7 linked regions of the Homo sapiens genome follow. The protein of the gene in region 5 purifies or fractionates together with the protein of the main gene of each other region. This does not show direct contact. Each region holds a gene or a part of one and is shown on either strand. Other genes may lie near its edges. The genes, in order: HLTF, UQCC2, SOST, OCIAD1, PMPCA, ABHD10 and RPUSD2.

What was found.
Region 1: the proteins of PMPCA (region 5) and HLTF purify together in Homo sapiens (affinity purification with mass spectrometry; 2 studies listed by BioGRID and IntAct, with this or other methods). This does not show direct contact.
Region 2: the proteins of PMPCA (region 5) and UQCC2 purify together in Homo sapiens (co-immunoprecipitation; one large-scale study listed by IntAct). This does not show direct contact.
Region 3: the proteins of PMPCA (region 5) and SOST purify together in Homo sapiens (co-immunoprecipitation; one large-scale study listed by IntAct). This does not show direct contact.
Region 4: the proteins of PMPCA (region 5) and OCIAD1 purify together in Homo sapiens (co-immunoprecipitation; one large-scale study listed by IntAct). This does not show direct contact.
Region 6: the proteins of PMPCA (region 5) and ABHD10 fractionate together in Homo sapiens (co-fractionation; one large-scale study listed by BioGRID). This does not show direct contact.
Region 7: the proteins of PMPCA (region 5) and RPUSD2 purify together in Homo sapiens (affinity purification with mass spectrometry; 2 studies listed by BioGRID and IntAct, with this or other methods). This does not show direct contact.

Annotation. Positions count from the first base shown.
Region 1 is NC_000003.12:149,032,081-149,034,533, reverse strand, and holds part of HLTF (helicase-like transcription factor), read left to right. Parts: intron 1-2,161; coding exon 2,162-2,314; 3' UTR 2,315-2,453. UniProt on the Homo sapiens protein: Has both helicase and E3 ubiquitin ligase activities. Possesses intrinsic ATP-dependent nucleosome-remodeling activity; This activity may be required for transcriptional activation or repression of specific target promoters.
Region 2 is NC_000006.12:33,701,701-33,705,200, reverse strand, and holds part of UQCC2 (ubiquinol-cytochrome c reductase complex assembly factor 2), read left to right. Parts: intron 1-3,500.
Region 3 is NC_000017.11:43,753,238-43,755,791, reverse strand, and holds the end of SOST (sclerostin precursor), read left to right. Parts: intron 1-28; coding exon 29-450; 3' UTR 451-2,054; downstream 2,055-2,554. UniProt on the Homo sapiens protein: Negative regulator of bone growth that acts through inhibition of Wnt signaling and bone formation.
Region 4 is NC_000004.12:48,844,588-48,848,087, forward strand, and holds part of OCIAD1 (OCIA domain-containing protein 1), read left to right. Parts: intron 1-3,500. UniProt on the Homo sapiens protein: Maintains stem cell potency. Increases STAT3 phosphorylation and controls ERK phosphorylation. May act as a scaffold, increasing STAT3 recruitment onto endosomes. Involved in integrin-mediated cancer cell adhesion and colony formation in ovarian cancer.
Region 5 is NC_000009.12:136,417,158-136,420,657, forward strand, and holds part of PMPCA (mitochondrial-processing peptidase subunit alpha isoform 1 precursor), read left to right. Parts: coding exon 1-57; intron 58-859; coding exon 860-952; intron 953-1,397; coding exon 1,398-1,516; intron 1,517-1,670; coding exon 1,671-1,761; intron 1,762-1,886; coding exon 1,887-1,949; intron 1,950-3,500. UniProt on the Homo sapiens protein: Substrate recognition and binding subunit of the essential mitochondrial processing protease (MPP), which cleaves the mitochondrial sequence off newly imported precursors proteins.
Region 6 is NC_000003.12:111,982,026-111,985,525, forward strand, and holds part of ABHD10 (palmitoyl-protein thioesterase ABHD10, mitochondrial isoform 1 precursor), read left to right. Parts: intron 1-3,500. UniProt on the Homo sapiens protein: Acts as an acyl-protein thioesterase that hydrolyzes fatty acids from acylated residues in proteins.
Region 7 is NC_000015.10:40,572,299-40,575,449, forward strand, and holds the end of RPUSD2 (pseudouridylate synthase RPUSD2), read left to right. Parts: intron 1-1,228; coding exon 1,229-1,963; 3' UTR 1,964-2,651; downstream 2,652-3,151. UniProt on the Homo sapiens protein: Pseudouridine synthase that catalyzes pseudouridylation of mRNAs.

The sequences.
Region 1 (2,453 bases), on a different chromosome or scaffold from region 5:
ATTCATGTTGTTGTGCAACAGCCATCACAATCATCCATCTCCAGAACTTTTTCATCATCTTAAACTGAAACTGTGTATCCATTAAATAATAACTTCCCATTCCTCTCCCCCCAGCCCCTGGCAACTACCATTCTACTTTCTTTCTCTGAATTTGACTACTCTACAAAACCATATAGATATATCGTAATATATTTAACCCATTAAGTTTTTTGCTAATAAAAACAGTGCCATAATGAGCATTATTATATATAAATCTTTTCACATAGATGCAAGTAATTCTTTGGGATAAGTTAAGAAAACTAGAATTCTGGATTTAGAATTTTTATCAACTATCGAGTTGGTTTCAAAATAGGATTTATATGAAAATTGTTAATTTATGCTTCTGTGGCCAAAAAAGTGCTGTTCTAATTTGCATTTACCTAAAACCTTGAGTATATTTCACATATCTTGTTTATTAACATTTTTTCTGTGAATTATTTATATCTTCTGTCCAGTTCTCATAGTTATGGTACAAATAGTTTTATAGTATAAAGGACTCCCTGATACAGTCTGACTTGAAATCTTTTGTTTATGTATGTTGAAAATGGTTTATCCCATACTCTTCCTTGTCTTTAAACTGCATTTTTTTGGTCATGAAAAAGCTTTAAAATTTTTATGATTTAAAACGTCAGCCTTTTTTATACGTTCTAGGTTTTAAGGTCTTACCTAGGACAGAAGGCTTTATTTTCACATTTTTTCAACTATTCTGTATTTACTTCTGGTTCTTTTGGAAGATTTTATTTTTTGTTTTATGATTTGTGACATGAGTCTAAGCTTATTATTTTATCAGATGAAGAACGATTTGTTCTGTCACATCATTTTTTTTCTTTGAAAATTCCAACTTTTTCCCTACTAGTATGAAATGTCACTTTCATCATAAACTAATTTATATATATTACTTGGGTCTTTTTCTAGACTATTCTGTTCCATTGATCTCTTTTCCTTTTCTTAGGGCAGTATTACTCTTATAACAACTATGGTTTCCTAAAGTAAGTTTTGATACCTGATAGGGTAAAATGTTCTGATGACCCTTTTTGAAAATTGTATTGGTGGTTATTATTATTGCTCTTGAATTGAACTTTAGATTTTAGTTATAAAATCCCATTTAAGATATCTTGAGATTTATTGAATTTATTATTACTTTCGAGAACTATCTTTCTTTATAAGTAACGAATGTTTCCATACAGGAACATAGTATCCTTTCTCCATTTATGTAGATCTTATATGTATTTCAGTAAAATTTTATTATATAGCTTTAGTTATTGCAGTAATTGGGTCTTCTTAAACAATGTTAAATAGTAGCAGATAGTGACCATTCTTGACTTGTTTCTGTTTTGTTGTAGAATACTTTTATTGTTTCACATTAAATATGTAAGGTTGAGACATTCATTCCTAGTTGGGGTATTTTAAAATCAAGTTTTTATCAGGAATGAGATGATCACGTTTTATTTTTCTCTTTGTTAGTGTTGTGAATTATACTAAAGATTCATTCTTGAATTTCTGGGAATAGTTTTTTGTTTTTTTTTTTTTTTTTTTTGAGACGTCGCTCTGTCACCCAGGCTGGAGTGCAGTGGCGCAATGTCGGCTTACTGCAAGCTCCGCCTCCCGGGTTCACACCATTCTCCTGCCTCAGCCTCCCGAGTAGCTGGGACTACAGGCGCCCACCACCATGCCCGGCTAACTTTTTCTATTTTTTAGTAGAGATGGCATTTCACCGTGTTAGCCAGGATGGTCTCGATCTCCTGACCTCATGATCTGCCCGCCTCGGCCTCCCAAAGTGCTGGGATTACAGGTGTGAGCCACCGTGCCCGGCCAGAATGGCCTTTTTAATACAATGCTGAAGTCATTTTGCCAGAGTTGCCTATATAGTTTGCTTTTTTTTTCTTTATTGCTTTGCTTATCTTGTGATCTGTAACTTCTATTCGTACAGCCATATTCTTTATATAAGAAAACCATATTGGGTAAGGAAAGCAAAGTTCAGTTCTATTAAATAGTTATTATAGTTTGGTGCAAAAGTAATTGCGGTTTTTGCCATTAGGCAAATCTTTCATTTAGTTTTTTTAATAAAGATTTTAAATACTATGCCTTAAAAACTACTTAACTTTTTTTTTTCTTTTTAAAGTTCATTGTAAAGGACTCTGTTGAAGAAAATATGCTGAAAATACAAAACAAAAAGAGAGAACTTGCAGCAGGAGCCTTTGGAACTAAAAAACCAAATGCTGACGAAATGAAACAAGCCAAAATTAATGAAATCAGAACATTAATTGACTTATAATTTGTGGGATTTTAGTAAGGTCAGTTTGATTGGATACTTAAGTTTTAGAAATGAGAAAAATACAGAGTTTTAGAAATGAGATCTAGAGAACACGTCTTCTAAAAGGGGCATATTTTATATTAGTGAAGAGGTATTACTG
Region 2 (3,500 bases), on a different chromosome or scaffold from region 5:
AATTAGCCAGGCGTGGTAGCGGGCGCCTATAGTTCCAGCTACTTGGGAGGCTGAGGCAGGAGAATGGCATGAACCCGGGAGGCGGAGCTTGCAGTGAGCCAAGATTGTGCCAGTGCACTCCAGCCTGGGCGACAGAGTGAGACTCCATCTAAAAAAAAAAAAAAAAAGAAGTGAGAGTACCTGAGGGTCACTTTGCTTTTTGCACTTAGACTTTGTACATTTTGCTCTTATAGGAGCAGCACTCTGCAAGGGTGACCCGCCCCCCATGCCCCTCCTGTCTGTCCTGCTGCTCATCAGGGATGGGACTACGTGGCAAGGAAGGACAGCACCTTATACCACACCTGCTTGAGGGTGTGATACAAGGTTGCTGAGCAACCTACTGGTGACTTCTCACTGCTAGAGAAGTTGGAGCAGGAAGGGAACTTGAGTTGAAAGGTATTTGAGGGTGGGGATCTGGTCAGAATGCAGGTTTATCAGGAAGCAGTGTTAGGAGCCCAGGAGAGAGGCAGAGGCTATGGGAGGAAGGCAGATCAGCTTGTGGACTCCTTTCCTAAGAGCTTGGTTGGGAAGGTGGTGGGGATGGTGGCAGGACGGGAAGGTCCAGATAAGCGGCCATCAGGTGAAGACCAGGTACAGCAAACAGCTGCTCTCTCGGCAGACCATGGAGAGCTCAGTGACTGCTGAGAGCCACCAGGGTCAGTCAGGAGTGAAGCCTCAGCAGTTTTTCATCCTTCCTCACTTCCGTTTCCAGCGCCACCCTCGGCAGTGCACACCAGCCATGCTGATCCACTGGTAACATGCTGACCCATTCCCTGGGCACGGGCTCCACCTGGTCCTGTGCCTGGAGCACCCCACTCCCTTGCCGGTACATGCGCCCATCCTCAGCCACTCATTGTCCAGCACTTCCTGCCTGGCCCCATAGGCCCATAGCACCTTGTACATGCCCCTTCATTCCACTCCCACCAGGGTGGTTCTGAACTGTTCTGTCCTTTCCCCTCTTATTTTATGAGACAGGGGCCTGTGTTTACTACAACTCTTTACTACTAATAACTGTGAGAAAAACTAATCGCTCACATTTATCGGCGTTCCAGGCCCGGAATTCAGAGCAGCCCAAGCGTCACCTCATTTATCCTCACACCACCGGGGACGTAGGGGCTATTATTATATTTTCTTTTAAAAGAAAGGTTAAGTTGGCCAGTATGCTTTAAAAATGTTCAGTGCATGAAAGACAAAGGCCGAGGAACGGTCCCGGATTAAAGGAGACTAAAAGATACATGACTGTTAAATGCAGCAGGACATCCTGTTTTTCCATAGATTATTATTGAGACAATTGACAGAATTGGAATATGGACTGTGCATTAGATAATAGTGTTGTATCGGTGTTAAGTGGCCTGAATTTGATCATTGAACTGTGGTTATATAAGAGAATGTTCTTGTTCTTAGGAAATGCACACTGAAATATTATGGGGTGAAGGGGCATTATGCTCCTACTTTCAAGTGGATCAGAAGAAGGATATGTATGTACAGATACAGAGAAAGATAAACTGTGGCAACTTTTTTTTTTTTTAAGTGTATTTCATGGGGAAGAGTGAGTGGTTTGCCTGACATCACATAGCTGATAAGGGATGGTGCCAGGAGTCAACCCAGGCAGTTTGACTCCCCTGCTCCCTACAGCCTTGGAGATACTCATTCACCCAAGCGTCCCCTGCTCATAGATGGGCCAATCATGCTATAGGGTCTCGATGAATGTCTGTTAAATTTATAAGTGAGCACACTTTGGGAGGCCGAGGTGGGCAAATCACAAGGTCAGGAGTTCGAGACCAGCCTGGCCAACATGGTGAAAGCCTGTCTCTGCTAAAAATACACAAAATTAGCTGGGCGTAGTGGTGGGTACCTGTAATCCCAGCTACTTGGGAGGCTGAAGCAGGAGAATCACTTGAACCCAGGAGGGGAGTTTGCAGTGAGCCGAGATCACGCCATTGCACTCCAGCGTTAGCTCTTGGCTGTGCGTGCCCTGCTGAAGAAATGTTCCAGATGTGTTCGCCCAGATGTGTGCAGAATTCCATTCTAATGGGACTTTCCCTGGACAAGCTGACCAGCAGCAGGGAGACCACAGCCTCATATTTTCCATTCATTCTGTCCACTCAGATAATGACTTTATTATTCAGCAAACGCTGGCCACCTCCTCAGGCCATAATCCTTCCTCTTCTGATGTATCTGGGTGTACATTCTCATGATGAGTAGCCTGAACGCAGGAATGGGTCAGGTAGAACTAAATGATGGATTGTCTTTTTTGTTTGCTGTAAAGTAGGGACCTCATTTGACATGCACAGAGAGGCAGCAGTGGAGCTGCCTATTAAACCACTTTACTACTGATTTATTTATGCTCTGCCTTCTCCAAGGAAGGATTTAAGTTAGGAAAAAATCCATCATTTGAATTCTGGGGGAAAAAATATAAAAGAGAAAGTTTTGTTCTGGGGAGCTTTTCAAAATTCTTGGCAGAAAAATATAAAGAACTATACATAAATAATAGGAAGGACAGAGTAAAGGGAAAGTTAGAAGAGGTGCAAGAGAAAAGACCACACCTCCTCTGTATGCTGCCTGTCTCCCTGAGAAGGTCCAGCAGGGGCACTGCTGTCTCTGGCACCAGAGAATTGACTTACATCACCCTTTCTATGGCAAGGCCTCAGTGTTCTGGGCCATCTCCTTTCTAGCAGGACCTAACTGTGGTCCTGGCTTGGTTCTCCTCAGTTTACACATTTTATCTTAAATGTTGCCTTCTTCATGTTTCTTTCCTTCTTGTAGAGTTTCAGCAGCTCCCCACTTATCATAGATTGAGAACTCAGATGATTTTTTTTTTTTTTGCCTTTGCTAAAAGAATCTGTTGGTCTGAGGCCGGGCATGGTGGCTCATGCCTGTAACCCCAACACTCTGGGAGGCTGAGGCAGGTGGATCGCTTGAGGTCAGGAGTTCGAAACCAGCCTGGCCAGCATGGTGAAACCCTGTCTCTACTAAAAAATACAAAAATTAGCTGGGTGTGGTGGCACATGCCTTTAATCCCAGTTACTCAGGAGGCTGAGGCTGGAGAATTGCTTGAACCCAGGAGGCGGAGGTTGCAGTGAGCCAAGATTGCGCCACTGCACTCCAGCCTGGGCAATAGAGTGAGAGACTGTCTCAAAAAAAACAAAAGAATCTACTGGTCTGGCCTGAAGCATCCCACAGGATTCCTGCCTCCTCTTCCTTGCTGACGGCATCTCCTCCCCCAGGAAGGCCTGCCCTTCTCCCTTCTGCTTGCTGACCTTCTGCTTGCTGACCTTCTGCTGTGCTTCCTTCAGAACCTAGCATTGTCTCACTTCCATCATGCACTGACCACTTGAGCATGCGGGGACTCCCCCACTGAGTCCCTGTAGCCCACTCTGCCCAGCACCCCCTTTGTTAGGCACGCCTTTCCAACCTTACATTTCTATTGTGGCATCTCCCACTGCAGCTGGTGTCGTGGC
Region 3 (2,554 bases), on a different chromosome or scaffold from region 5:
CCACCCTCACGCGCGCCTCTCTCCACAGACGTGTCCGAGTACAGCTGCCGCGAGCTGCACTTCACCCGCTACGTGACCGATGGGCCGTGCCGCAGCGCCAAGCCGGTCACCGAGCTGGTGTGCTCCGGCCAGTGCGGCCCGGCGCGCCTGCTGCCCAACGCCATCGGCCGCGGCAAGTGGTGGCGACCTAGTGGGCCCGACTTCCGCTGCATCCCCGACCGCTACCGCGCGCAGCGCGTGCAGCTGCTGTGTCCCGGTGGTGAGGCGCCGCGCGCGCGCAAGGTGCGCCTGGTGGCCTCGTGCAAGTGCAAGCGCCTCACCCGCTTCCACAACCAGTCGGAGCTCAAGGACTTCGGGACCGAGGCCGCTCGGCCGCAGAAGGGCCGGAAGCCGCGGCCCCGCGCCCGGAGCGCCAAAGCCAACCAGGCCGAGCTGGAGAACGCCTACTAGAGCCCGCCCGCGCCCCTCCCCACCGGCGGGCGCCCCGGCCCTGAACCCGCGCCCCACATTTCTGTCCTCTGCGCGTGGTTTGATTGTTTATATTTCATTGTAAATGCCTGCAACCCAGGGCAGGGGGCTGAGACCTTCCAGGCCCTGAGGAATCCCGGGCGCCGGCAAGGCCCCCCTCAGCCCGCCAGCTGAGGGGTCCCACGGGGCAGGGGAGGGAATTGAGAGTCACAGACACTGAGCCACGCAGCCCCGCCTCTGGGGCCGCCTACCTTTGCTGGTCCCACTTCAGAGGAGGCAGAAATGGAAGCATTTTCACCGCCCTGGGGTTTTAAGGGAGCGGTGTGGGAGTGGGAAAGTCCAGGGACTGGTTAAGAAAGTTGGATAAGATTCCCCCTTGCACCTCGCTGCCCATCAGAAAGCCTGAGGCGTGCCCAGAGCACAAGACTGGGGGCAACTGTAGATGTGGTTTCTAGTCCTGGCTCTGCCACTAACTTGCTGTGTAACCTTGAACTACACAATTCTCCTTCGGGACCTCAATTTCCACTTTGTAAAATGAGGGTGGAGGTGGGAATAGGATCTCGAGGAGACTATTGGCATATGATTCCAAGGACTCCAGTGCCTTTTGAATGGGCAGAGGTGAGAGAGAGAGAGAGAAAGAGAGAGAATGAATGCAGTTGCATTGATTCAGTGCCAAGGTCACTTCCAGAATTCAGAGTTGTGATGCTCTCTTCTGACAGCCAAAGATGAAAAACAAACAGAAAAAAAAAAGTAAAGAGTCTATTTATGGCTGACATATTTACGGCTGACAAACTCCTGGAAGAAGCTATGCTGCTTCCCAGCCTGGCTTCCCCGGATGTTTGGCTACCTCCACCCCTCCATCTCAAAGAAATAACATCATCCATTGGGGTAGAAAAGGAGAGGGTCCGAGGGTGGTGGGAGGGATAGAAATCACATCCGCCCCAACTTCCCAAAGAGCAGCATCCCTCCCCCGACCCATAGCCATGTTTTAAAGTCACCTTCCGAAGAGAAGTGAAAGGTTCAAGGACACTGGCCTTGCAGGCCCGAGGGAGCAGCCATCACAAACTCACAGACCAGCACATCCCTTTTGAGACACCGCCTTCTGCCCACCACTCACGGACACATTTCTGCCTAGAAAACAGCTTCTTACTGCTCTTACATGTGATGGCATATCTTACACTAAAAGAATATTATTGGGGGAAAAACTACAAGTGCTGTACATATGCTGAGAAACTGCAGAGCATAATACTGCCACCCAAAAATCTTTTTGAAAATCATTTCCAGACAACCTCTTACTTTCTGTGTAGTTTTTAATTGTTAAAAAAAAAAAGTTTTAAACAGAAGCACATGACATATGAAAGCCTGCAGGACTGGTCGTTTTTTTGGCAATTCTTCCACGTGGGACTTGTCCACAAGAATGAAAGTAGTGGTTTTTAAAGAGTTAAGTTACATATTTATTTTCTCACTTAAGTTATTTATGCAAAAGTTTTTCTTGTAGAGAATGACAATGTTAATATTGCTTTATGAATTAACAGTCTGTTCTTCCAGAGTCCAGAGACATTGTTAATAAAGACAATGAATCATGACCGAAAGGATGTGGTCTCATTTTGTCAACCACACATGACGTCATTTCTGTCAAAGTTGACACCCTTCTCTTGGTCACTAGAGCTCCAACCTTGGACACACCTTTGACTGCTCTCTGGTGGCCCTTGTGGCAATTATGTCTTCCTTTGAAAAGTCATGTTTATCCCTTCCTTTCCAAACCCAGACCGCATTTCTTCACCCAGGGCATGGTAATAACCTCAGCCTTGTATCCTTTTAGCAGCCTCCCCTCCATGCTGGCTTCCAAAATGCTGTTCTCATTGTATCACTCCCCTGCTCAAAAGCCTTCCATAGCTCCCCCTTGCCCAGGATCAAGTGCAGTTTCCCTATCTGACATGGGAGGCCTTCTCTGCTTGACTCCCACCTCCCACTCCACCAAGCTTCCTACTGACTCCAAATGGTCATGCAGATCCCTGCTTCCTTAGTTTGCCATCCACACTTAGCACCCCCAATAACTAATCCTCTTTCTTTAGGATTCACATTA
Region 4 (3,500 bases), on a different chromosome or scaffold from region 5:
CCTGGGCAACAGAGCGAGACTCTGTCTCAAAAAAAAGGTAAAAATTGAGAGAGACTTTAAGAAAAGAATTTGGAATCCACCAAGACATTTTGCATTTAATCAAAATCCCTGACATTTTGTACAGTGGTCCTTTTGTGTCTGTGTGGATTGGTTCCAGGACCCTCCAGAGGATACCAAAATCCACAAAAGCTTAAGTCTCTGATATAAAACGGCCTAGTAAAGTTTACGTGCATATCTGCCTGTATACTGTAAATCATCTCTAGATTACTTATAATACCTAAGACTATGTAAACACTATGTAAATAGTTGTTATACTGTATTGTTTAGGGAATAATGACAAGAAACAAGTCTGTACATGTTTAGTATAGATGCAGTTTTTTTTTTCCTAAATATTTTCTATCCGCAGTTGGTTGCAGAACATGTACATATGGAGGGCTGCCTGTATCCCCTTTCATCCACAGTGTGTCATACTCCACGTGGTCTTAGATGTTCCTTCTGTTTCTTCCTGATCTGCCAAAACCATTTAAACATGCTCAGGTCTCCTCTAACTTGAGAACATTAAAAAGAAAAAAAAATCCTCCCTCATTTGTTTTTCCAGCTACTCCCAACTGCCTCATATTTGAAGCCAGAGGCAGACTTCATGAATGAGCCCTTCACTTTTTACTTCGTTTAACCCATTGCAGTCAGTGTGAGACTATCCATATGTTCTACCATTTATTGGAACTTTTCAAAAGTTCAAAAACAAACTTTTCAAAAACAACCTGTTTGTTGCTTAAATATAATGGACAGTTTTTGTTCTTGACCAACGTTACATAACTTTAACCAGTTTTTCTTGAAATAGTCTATTCTCTTGGCTTCCATGATGGCATATTCCTAAGATTTTTCTCCTACCTCAGGCGATTCCTCTGTTTCATGTTTTTTGAGTGTCTGATATGTACTATACATTGTTATATAGCACTAAACAACAAAAATTCATTAACTCTTGGTGCTTACATTCTTGTATGGGTTTTTTTGTCTAGTTGTTTGGGAAATGTTGGTGTTACTATATTTTGGATATAATATATAATATGTATGGCCCTTCTATAGGCTCCTCAAACAGAACTCAACCATTTTCCACAAAACCAATTCCTCCTTTCCCTTCATGACTGAGTGGTGTTAGTACTATCCAGGAAACTGGGACATTATCCTTCACATCTATCCCTTATCTGCCTTGTCCAATTAATGTCTTTTAGCTCTTAAATGTCTTTATTAACTATCTACCTCCATCTGTACTGCCAGCATAATTAATGCAACCATATGTCACAAAGAGTATTGCGTTAACCTTCAACAAATCTGTTTGTTTCCATTCTTGCTACTTCTCCTTAGGAAAATAAGCTATTTCTAGCACCTGACAGAGGACATACATAGTGCACATAGTACTCAAATATTTGAGGGGATGAATAGCAACCATGACACTATTATCTTTGTCTTAACTCTCTCTCTAGACTGTAAATTCCATGAGAGTAAAGAGTGTGTCCTGTTTCCTGTTAATATCCAGTATGTAGTACCTTTATGTTGTAAGTGGTCTATAACTAGTTGGTGACAGTATGAAGGAACAACTTTTTAATGTAAAAATAGAGATGTTCTTACCATCTTCCTTTTTCTATTGTCATCCCAGTTCTTATAAATGAAGGAACTGAGGCTAAAGGCACAGATTAGTTGTCTGTTTTTGTACTTTAATTACATGAAATCATACACTGAAATATTCTTTTATGTAAGTTCTTTCAACATGGTGAGATTCATCCAGTAGCATGCTGGAACTGGTTTGTACTGGCTCCTGAGAATTGGTTGTTAAATTTTCGGGAACTTTGGCAAGCTGGTTTTTAAAGTGTTGGTAGTTGGCCGGGTACGGTGGCTCATGCCGGTAATCCCAGCACTTTGGGAGGCTGAGGCAGGCGGATCATGAGGTCAGGTGATTGAGACCATCCTGGCCAATATGGTGAAACCCTGTCTCTACTAAAAATACAAAAAATTAACTGGGCATGGTGGTGTGCACCTGTAGTCCCAGCTACTTGGGAGGCTGAGGCAGGAGAATTGCTTGAACCCAGGAGGCGAAGGTTGCAGTGAGCTGAGATGGCGCCACTGCACTCCAGCCTGGGGACAGAGCGAGACTCGTCTCAAAAAAAAAAAAAAAAGAATTGGTAGCTTTACACCATGGAAACTGACAAACATTAAAATTAGAGCTTTTTATAGGGAGTGCTGGTTTACCAGCACATCATTGCACTTAACCACATTGTTGCATGTAGTTGCCCTATAGTTTTCCTCTGTGTGAATACACCAGTTTATCTATCTGAACTGTGCATTGATAATTGGTAGTTTTCAATTTTCACTGTTACAATTAGTTTTGCCAAGAATATGGTGCCTTTTTGATAGACATTTTGCTGGGTCATAGATTTTGTATATATTTATTTAGCTTTAGTAGATATTACCAAACTATTTAGACCAATGTATACTCCTACATTCTCACCAACACTAGCTATTTTTATGTCTTTTATGTTTTAGCCATTGTGGTAAATAAACACTAATATTGATTGCATTGTGGCTTGAATTTGTATTTCCCTGTAACCAATGAAGTTGAAGACCTTTCCATTTGTTTATACTTCATTTCAGCATATCTTTTTCTGTGAAGTATCTGTTTAAGTCTGTTAACCATTTTTCCATTGTATTGTCTTTTTTCCTATTGGTTTTGTGAGACTTCTCTGTATACTTTGGAATTGAGTCTTTTGTCAGATATAGATATGGTGATTATTTTTTCCCCACTCTGTTTAACTGTAGTTTTCAGTGTTAATAGAGTCCAATTTATCAGGTTTCTTCTTTCTAATAGGTGCTTTTTGTTGACTCTTTAAGATCTTCGTCTACTCTAAGGACACAAAGATGGTCTCATGCTTTCTTCTGTAAAATTTTTTAAAAAAATCTTTCATATTTAAATTTTTAAGCCATCTGGATTATTGTTCGATGTAGGATCAAGGTACATTTTCCCCTGTTAATGGATATTAATTGACCCAGCACTATATTTGAAAGGACTATGCTGCAGTGTTGTCTTTGTCATAAATCAAGTGTGCAGGTGTGGATCTGTTTCTGGACTCTTAGTTTTGGTCAGTTTGCCTATTCTTGTACTTAATACCAGACTGTCTTAATTACTACAGCTTTATCATGTAGATTTTGCTATCTGGTGGTAGTCAGTTCTATAATACGATTCTTCAGTGTTGCCTTGGCCCTTTGTGTTCCACATGACTCTTAGAATAAGCTTTTCAATTTTTGTAAAACTTTGATTTTAATTGGGATTGCATTGTATTTATAGGTGAAGTTATGGAGAATTGCCATCTTTAGAATATTGGGTCTTTCAATTCTCAGTAAGTTTTATAACTTGTCAGTGTAGAGATCTTTCATATCTTTCATTAGATTTGTTCCTGGGTTTTGAGCGTTTTTTTTTTTGGTGCTATAATTAATTCTGTCTTCTA
Region 5 (3,500 bases):
GCAGAGGCCGTGGATATTGACAGATCTGTGGCCCAGTACACTGGGGGGATTGCCAAGGTGAAGTAGCGGGAACGTCTCATGGCCTCGGGTGGGGAACACGTCCCCTGGCCCGTGGTGTGACCTGTTTTTGTATTGATTCTGAGGGTGATAGGTGTTGACTGCATGTGTAGCTTTGCCTTAACACATGCTGTAGTCCCACAGCAGGGCATGGACTGTGTCCCCTGCTGAGAATGAGTGCTGCTAGGCCTGAGAGCAACACAAAAGGTGGATGCGGTTCTTTCTCTAGGGGAGTGGGTCTGCCACTGCGTGTTGCATTTTTTTTTTTTTTTTTTAGAGATGGAGCCTCGCTCTGTCACCCAGGCTGGAGTGCAGTGGTGCAATCTCGGCTTACTGCAACCTCCACCTCCCAGGTTCAAGTGATTCTTCTGCCTCAACTTCCCGAGTAGCTGGGATTACCACCACGCCCGGCTAAATTTTGTATAGAGATGGGGTTTCACTATGTTGGCCAGGCTGGTCTCGAACTCCTGACCTCATGATCTACCTGCCTCAGCCTCCCAAAATGCTGGGATTACAGGCGTAAGCCACCACGCCCAGCTTATATGTATATACATATGTTTTTTTTTTTTTGTCTTTTTGGTAGAGGTGGAGTTTTGCCACATTGCCTAGGCTGGTCTTGAACTCCTGGACTCAAGTGATCTGCCCACCTTGGCCTCCCAAAGTGCTGGGATTTTAGGCATGAGCCACTGTGCCTGGCTGGCATTGGATTTCTGTGTAACCACTCTGAAGATGATCTCATCTGGGGTTTGCGAGCCCTCATTGTTTTTCACATGGCGACACTTGCTTGTTTTCTTGGTTACAGCTAGAAAGAGACATGTCCAATGTCAGCCTGGGCCCGACCCCCATCCCCGAGCTCACGCACATCATGGTTGGACTGGAGAGCTGCTCCTTCCTGGTGAGTCCTGGTGCTGGGTCTGATGGCGTTCCTGATGCAGTGTGGCCGGCTCAGCCAGCCCTGCCCTCTGTCCCTGGCATCCGACAGCGCTCCTGATGGGGCGTGGGCGGCTCAGCCAGCTCTGCCCTCTGTCCCTGGCATCCAGCAATGCTCCTGATGCAGTGTGGGCGACTCAGCCAGCTCTGCCCTCTGTCCCTGGCGTCTGACGGCGCTCGTGACACAGCGTGGGTGGCTCAGCTAGCTCTGCCCTTTGTCCCTGGCATCCGACGGCGCTCCTGACGCGGCATGGGTGGCTCAGCCAGCTCTGCCCTCCGTCCCTGGCGTCCAGCGGCGCTCCTGACGTGGCTTGGGCGACTCAGCCAGCTCTGCCCTCCGTCCCTGGCGTCTGACGGTGCTCCTGACGTGGCGTGGGTGGTTCAGCCAGCTCTGCCCTCCGTCCCTGCAGGAGGAGGACTTCATCCCCTTTGCAGTGTTGAACATGATGATGGGCGGAGGTGGCTCCTTCTCGGCTGGTGGGCCCGGCAAGGGCATGTTCTCCAGGCTCTACCTCAACGTGCTCAACAGGTGGGTTGCACTCTTTTCTGTATCCTCAGGCCACCAGGCCAGGCCAGGTGTGTTTTTGGACCATGAGGCCACCTTCCAGGTGACTTTTCTCCAGTTTCCCATGGCCTGATCCTGGCGAGTCCCCTTCACTCCCATGACTCTCGCTTCCTCCCAGGCACCACTGGATGTATAACGCGACCTCCTACCACCACAGCTACGAGGACACTGGCCTCCTTTGCATCCATGCCAGCGCCGACCCAAGACAGGTGAGGGCCCCGCCTGCCACCGTCCTCAGTGCGGTTGCCTGTCCAGACCTGGGCGTCCCTGCCTAGACGGGTCAGTAGGCCGGCAGGCGCAGGCCACACTGTTATCGTCTTGCCCTTCTTCGCAGGTTCGAGAAATGGTAGAAATCATCACAAAGGAGTTTATTTTAATGGGCGGAACCGTGGACACGGTAAGTGCAGTGTGGCGCCATTTCCAGGCGTACCTGTGGTGTCTGACAGGAGACAGCCACGTTGTAGGAGTGGCCACCTGTGGGCCTGGTCCCTGAGCCTCAGGGCCAAGGTCCCGGCAGGGCAGGGCAGGGCAGGGCGGCCAAGGAGGCACAGCCTGGGGCTGAGCTGCTCCACCTGGGAGCCCGCTGAGGCTGTTCTTCCCTGGTCCAAACCCCGAAAACAGAAAAACAGACCACCGCCCTCCCCCAGTGCTCGGTCCACTACTTCTTTCTCTGAGCCACTGGGTGAGTCGTGGGACTGACCATGTGACTCTCTCAGCTTTGCTGGCGAAACGCTGCAGGAGTTTTTGTGTCCTTCTCAGCCGCCTCTGTGAGGTGACTGGGGTGAAGCAGCTCGCACAGGTGGGCTGCAGCGTGGGGTGTCTCGAGCCTTTCCCTGGCTCCATTCTATGTTTGAAACTGTATTTGTTTACCAATTTTTTTTTGTTCTTTTTAAGATGGAGTCTCACTGTCTCACCCAGGCTGGAGTGCAGTAGCTCAAATTCGGCTCACTGCAACCTCCACCTCCCGGGTTCAAGCGATTCTCCTGCTTCAGCCTCCCAAGTAGCTGGGATTACAGGCATGCGCCACCATGCCTGGCTAATTTTTGTATTTTTAGTAGAGACGGGGTTTCGCCATGTTGGCCAGGGTGGTCTTAAACTCCTGACCTCAAGTGATCCGTTGCCTTGGCCTCCCAAGGTGCTGGGATTACAATTACAGGTGTGAGCCACCATGCGTCCCTGTTTACTAATTTTTTAAGCTTAGTTTTTGATGCTTTACACATTTGGGAACCTCGTTACTTCCTGGACCAGAAGTGGTACAAATAAGCAAGTTTTATACACACACTTTTTTTTTTTTTTAGACAGAGTCTTGCTCAGGCTGGAGTGCAGTGGCATGATCTCAGCTCACTGCATCCTTCCACCTCCCGGGTTCAGGTGATTCTCCTACCTTAGCCTCCTGAGTAGCTGGGATTACAGGCATGTGTCACCACCCTAGCTAATTTTTTTGTTTTTTGTTTTCTGTTTTTTTTTTTTTTTTTTGAGACGGAGTCCTGCTCTGTTGCCCAGGCTGGAGTGCGGTGGCATGATCTCAACTCATTGCAACCTCCGCCTCCCGGGTTCAGGTGATTCTCCTACCTCAGCCTCCTGAGTAGCTGGGATTACAGGCACCCACCACCACACCTGGCTAATTTTTTGTATTTTTAGTAGAGATGGGGTTTCACCATGTTGGCCAGGCTGGTCTTGAACTCCTGACCTCAAGTCATCTGCCCATCTCGGCCTCCCAAAGTGCTGGGATTACAGGTGTGAGCCATTGCACGCAGCCCCATGGCTAATTTTTGTATTTTTAGTAGAGACAGGGTTTCACCACGTTGGCCAGACCGGTCTTGAACTGCTGACCTCAGGTGATCCACCTGCCTTGGCCTCCCAAAGTGCTGGGATTACTTTGGGATCCCGGTGTGAGCCACCGTGCCCGGCCAGGAAAAAAAGCATTCAAGAAATAAAGTTGTGGTTA
Region 6 (3,500 bases), on a different chromosome or scaffold from region 5:
ACTTCTGTTCTAATCAGTTGAAGTAAATGCCAGCATTTTTATACATTATTTTAATGGTCTGTAAACTTGCATCTTGTGATTTAGGGTAATTTTAAAAGCAACCTTTAAAAGACCTTTTTTAAAGGCCTTTGTGCCACGCTGACAACCCTGGCAGAAAAGGACATCTTAAGGGAAATATTGGTAACTAAGCTCTTTAGAGGCAATAATGTATGTGACAACAAACAGATATACTAGTTGGCTTTCATACAGTCTCTTATATTATCATTTTCCACTGGGGACTTAAGGACTTTATTTGATCACTGTTTATCTAAAAGTAATACATGTATTTAAAAGTATCATAATGCAAATTTCTGCTGAGTTTTCTCTTCCCTCTCCTGTAATCTGAATATGTATAAGCATAAATAGGGATAAGTGGTACTTAACTCAAGCTTGATTTTATAATTCCTAATTTTTCACACTGAGAGTTATTTTAGTAAATAACTTTATGTTATTATAAGGTCTACCTGTAGCAGTTATATGTTTAGTATCCACTGTCCAGAAGAGATGGTATGATTTCGTAAAAAGAAGATTAGCCTGGAATTCAAGAAACATGAGTTCTAGAATAAATTCGAGCAATAACTATGACAAGACAAGTAAGTTAATAAACATTGGACCTAAGTTTGTCATCAAAAGAAGGAGGTTGGACTAGAGATAACTTCTGAGTTATTTTCTAGCACTAACAGCCTAAAAATCTATCCATCTAAATTTTTAGAAGAGTGACTCACAAACATTCATTCAATAATTCTAGAAAATACAGCTGTATATAAAACTTTCAGACTACCTGTTCAATATATTAGCAGCAATTATGTCAATTATAAAATTAAATAAGATTTAATCTTATTTCTTTTACCAAACTAATGAATTATTTTATTTTCATACTCAGAACTATGTTAAAATCTGTTCTGACTTATTCTGAAGATTGGAGTACTTTTTGGAAATAGATTCTCTAGCACTATACTGAGTGCTGCATAATAACAAAGAATTATAAAACATTGTACTTGCCTATGAGGACCTTTCATTCAGGGTGGGGAAACACAAGATAAAATACATGTTAGAAATTTGGCAGAAATACTCATCAGAATGTGATTGTGTCAAAAGAACAGTATACTTAATTGCATAAAGTTAGAGACAGTGGGATTGAAATAGATAAAGGAACGTTGAAGAATAATTCAGATTTGGGTGGGAGGGAAGTGCTGTCCAAGGAGGGGGACTGTCCTGAGCAGAAGATCATAATATCAAAAATATTGTTATCACTTTTCTTTTTTGCCACTGAATAAATTTGAATCGAGAAATCACCATTTTACCAGTTCTAAAATTTCAGCTTTGAGACTATGAGAGTTATAACCAGTTCCTGTCTCCCTATAAGACATAATGTGGCTTTTCTGCATTTTTGGATCCTGTGTGAGTATACCTTCATAAAGAATAGTGCTTAACTACAAATATTTAGTTTGAACAAGTTCCATTTTATTTGCTCTTATCAAAGTTCATCACAGTCTAATTATTGTTAACTATTGATTGCACTTTATTATAAGAGATTTTATCTTCTATTCTCTAATTTTTCAGGTTGCTTTTGTTGGGATTTTTTGCTGTAAAATTTAGATCTTCAATGATGAAATAGTTTATTACACAAGAAATAAAACATATGACTATATGAAAATGTTTTATTAAGGTCCTATCACCATGCCTAAAATAAGACTGATTCAGATCTCAGGAATATAACATATGGTTTTAAGGCTGGTATTCTCTCATAATTATTTGTAATAGAATTTTTATTTGGGACTACATCCCAGACTATTGAGGCTGCTAAGATGGAGATGTGCTACTGTTTAAAAGTTTTAAAGTGCTGAATATGTTTGGATTATCTTTGTCTCTGGATTGGGGTTCAGTGAGAGTTAACTATATTTTTTTAATGGTACCCTGTTAGTATCACCAAGTATTTATATTTTCCTTCATGAAGGAGCTGTACAAGTATTTTGCATCCTCACCATATATTTGGAAGGCAGCTAACTGTAAAAGATGCCACATTCAGCCATATCCAATTGCCACCTATGAAGAGAGAAAAGGAGAAAATTAGTTGGTGTCTTTCCCCCTTTTTTCTTCCACCCCTTCTACCCATCTCTTACATACCCTGGATTGAGGGGGAAACAGTAACTGATTTAGACTGCACCAGTTGCCCTGTTCTATTTCCCAAGGATCCAAAATCGTTTCACTTCAAACCTAAAGAAAAATTTAATTTCTTCTCTCCCCTATTTCTCATAAATCCCTTACTTACTGTACCAGCCATTCCACCAAAAAGGTTCATTTGAACTAGGCTCTGGGAAAGGATATCAGTAAAGAAGGGAAAATATATCAGTAAAGAAGATGATGGAAGAAGGTATTCCAGGTAAAGGAATCAACAGTGTGAGATGTGAAACACATAAGAAAACATAGACCTATTTTAGGAACAGTAAGTTCATCAATTTGTCTAAAGCAGTAGTATTCCCTGATGAAGTGAGTACTACTGTAAAATTTAGTAGTAAAAAAAAATTTACTGTAAAATTTATTGTGAAATCAATCTGAAATGACCAGAATATAATGGTTCAAAAAAACAGGCCAAAGCACTAAGTGTTTATGTTGTATATCACAGGGAGCACTGAAGGTAATGCTAAAATGTTAAAGAAAAAAACTGACATGTATATAGTGACTCTATTTAAAGACAGAGTCATAGAGACACAAGATAGAAGGCTACTGTGATAGTCTAGGTCTAAGATGACAAATAAACACCTACACCAAGATACTGGACTTACCAAAGTACCAAGAAAGGGATGAACATAAGAAGAAATGAGAAAGAATGGTGATGGTATAGGGCAGGCAGTATTCTGTGGCCTGGAAAAACAAACGAATAAAACAGCCTCCTCTTAAGGAACTGACATTCTAGTCAGAGGGAGATGAATGTTTAAAAACAAACTTGATTACAATACAATATGAAAAGTGTTGAGTACATACAAAAGAAAGTGACTGGTACTAAATGGGGCATATATGTCAAGTGAAGTTCCTCAGAGGAGGTGACATGACTTAAAGGGTGACTACGAATTTGGGTTGGGGAGGAAGCTGTTCTTGGCAGCAGAACAGCATGCTAAGGCTCTAAGTTATAAAAGGGTGTAACTGGGAATTAGGAGTAGTTCAGTATGACTAGAGTTTAGGTAACCTGTGGGTGTGGTATGATACTTTATACCACCATGATTTTTTATTGATTTGATACCCTTAAGGAGAGGTAAAATTCATAGATCAGACAGATAACTGAGCCTAGATAACTAGGAAGTTGGAAGGAGAAAGGGATGGGTTGGTGATGATGAATTTTATTCTGGTCTCCTTCCCTTCCATCAATTCACTAAATATACACTAAGCACCTACCACTCGCAAGGAACTGAACTAGGCACTAGGAACGCATTGAAACAAAGCTTGTGCCCATGTGGAACTTT
Region 7 (3,151 bases), on a different chromosome or scaffold from region 5:
ACGCCTGTAATCCCAACACTTTGGGAGGCCGAGGCGGGCAGATCACGAGGTCAGGAGATCGAGGTCATCCTGGCTAACACGGTGAAACCCCGTCTCTACTAAAAAAAAATACAAAAAATTAGCTGGGCGTGGTGGCGGGCACCTATAGTCCCAGCTACTCGGGAGGCTGAGGCAGGAGAATGGTGTGAACCCAAGAGGTGGAGCTTGCAGTGAGCCGAATCGCGCCACCGCACTCCAGCCTGGGTGACAGAGTGAGACTCTGTCTCAAAAAAAAAAAAAAAAACTTACCCTGGCATGGTGGCACATGCCTGTAGTCCCAGCTACTTGGGAGGCTGAGATAGGAGGATCACTTGGCCATGGGAGGTTGAGGCTGCAGTGAGCCATGAGCATGTCACTGCGTTCCAGCCTGAGCTATAGAACAAGACTCCGTCTCAAAGAAATAAATTAACATAAGAAAATAAAGTGCTGACAGGCTGAGCAAGGCTTTTAAGATTATGGGGAGAGCCTGCTTGGTGAAAAGATTCTAGATGTAGTTGGAAAAGTCTTGGGTAGAGGAGTTTAATGGTAATGATTGTTGTCCTGAGACTTGTAATTCTGGATCTGAATCATAATACATTTATTGAGTGCATGCTATATACCAGGCTTAGTATCAAGCACATTAGAGCCTAACTTACTGAATGCTTATCACAGCCCAATGAGGTAAATGCTTTTCTTTTCTTTTCTTTTTTTTTTTTTTTTTTTTTGAGATGGAGTTTCGCTCTTGTTGCCCAGTCTGGAGTGCAATGGTGTGATCCTGGCTCACTGCAACCTCCGCCTCCTGGGTTCAAGCAATTATCCTGCCTCAGCCTCCCAGGTAGCTGGGATGACTGGCATGCGCCACCACGCCTGGCTAATTTTGTATTTTTTAGTAGAGACGGGGTTTCTTCATGTTGGTCAGGCTGGTCTCGAACTTTCGACCTCAGGTGATCCACCCACCTCAGCTTCCCAAAGTGCTGGGATTACAGGCGTGAGCCACCTCACCCAGCTGGTAAATGCTTTTCTAATTTCACATTTTCTAGATGAGTTAGTAGGATTTAGAGGTTAAGTAATGTACCCAAGATCGCAAAACTGGCGAATGGTAGAGCTGGAGTTTGAATTTTCTGACACTGGTCCTTATCACTCCACAAAGAGTTTGGACTCCATGAATTTAGGCTTTGTACTGACTTTCTCCCTCTTCCCTCCTATGTAGCTGGAGAAGGAGTACGTGTGCCGGGTGGAAGGGGAGTTCCCCACTGAGGAAGTGACCTGTAAAGAACCCATCTTAGTGGTGTCTTACAAAGTAGGGGTGTGCCGTGTAGATCCCCGGGGCAAGCCCTGTGAGACAGTGTTCCAGAGGCTAAGCTACAATGGCCAGTCCAGTGTGGTACGGTGCCGGCCACTCACAGGCCGCACACACCAGATTCGAGTCCACCTTCAGTTCTTGGGCCATCCCATTCTCAACGACCCCATCTACAACTCAGTTGCCTGGGGTCCTTCTCGAGGCCGGGGCGGCTACATTCCCAAGACAAACGAGGAGTTGCTACGGGACCTGGTAGCAGAGCACCAGGCCAAACAGAGCCTGGATGTGCTAGATCTCTGTGAGGGTGACCTGTCCCCAGGACTCACAGACTCTACGGCCCCCTCCTCAGAGTTGGGCAAGGACGACCTGGAAGAGTTGGCTGCAGCTGCCCAGAAGATGGAGGAAGTAGCTGAGGCAGCCCCTCAGGAGTTGGACACAATAGCCTTGGCATCAGAGAAGGCAGTTGAAACAGATGTCATGAATCAAGAGACAGACCCACTCTGTGCAGAGTGCCGGCTGGTGCGACAGGATCCCTTGCCCCAAGACCTTGTGATGTTCCTACATGCCCTACGCTATAAAGGGCCAGGCTTTGAGTACTTTTCACCAATGCCTGCCTGGGCACAGGATGACTGGCAAAAGGACTGAGGGTGTGGCCAATGGAGGGATTGCTTCTTGGGTTGTGACAAGGATGGGCTATAGGGCAAGGGCTGACCCCATGGGCTAGTACTTGGGGTTTCTATAGGAATGAGGACGGGCTTCTAAAGAGACCTGCTCATACTTGCTACCTCCTTCCAGTGGGAATTTGGAGACTTTTTGGTTTGTAAATATATCCCTTTTTCTAACATCTTTGATGTCTGGTTTTCTTCCGGCTTCTTTTTTATTACTGATGTAAAATTCACATAACATAAAATTAACCACTTTAACTAGCCAGGCACAGTGGCTCATGGCTATAATCCTAGTACTTTGGGAGGTAGAAGTGAAAGGATCACTGGAGGCCAAGAGTTCAAGGTTAAAGTGAACTGTGATTGTGCTGCTGCACTCCAGAGCCTAGGTGACAGAGTGAGACCCTGTCTCTTAAAAAAAAAAAAAATTAACCAATTTAAGATGTACAGCGTAGTCACATTTAGTACATTCACAGTGTTGTACAACCATAACCTCATATATTTCCAAAACATTTTCATCACCCCAAAAGGAAACCTGTACCCATTAAGTAAGTGGTCACTTTCCACTCCCCTTCCACCAGCCTCTGGCAACCACTAATCTACTTTCTGTCTGTTTGGATTTGCCTGTTTATTCTGGACATTTTATATAAATGGAATGATAAAACATGTGACCTATGTCTCTGTTTCCCTTGGCATAATGTTTTCAAGGTTTATTCAACTTGTAGCATGTATCGGTACTTCATTCTTTTTTTATGGCAGAATAAGCTGTTGTATGGATATACCACGATTTGTCTATCTGTTCATCAGTTAATGGACATTTGGGTTGTTTCCACCATTTCATTATTGTGGATAGTGCTGCTGTGAACATTAAATATGTTTTCAGTTCTTTTGGGTATATACCTCACAGTGGAATTGCTGGGTCATATGGTAATTCTATGTTTAAATGTTTGAGAATCCACCAAACTTTTCCACAGCAGCTGAACCATTTTATATTGCCACCAGCAAGCATAGGGTTTCAATTTCTCTACATCTTCACCAACATTTGTTTTGTTTTGATTATAGTCATCCTAGTAGGAGTGAAGTGGCATCTCATTCTGGGTTGTTAGTCTTTTTGTTGTGGAGTGTAAGTGTTCTTTATATATTCTGGATGTGAGAGTCTTAGCAAAAAGAC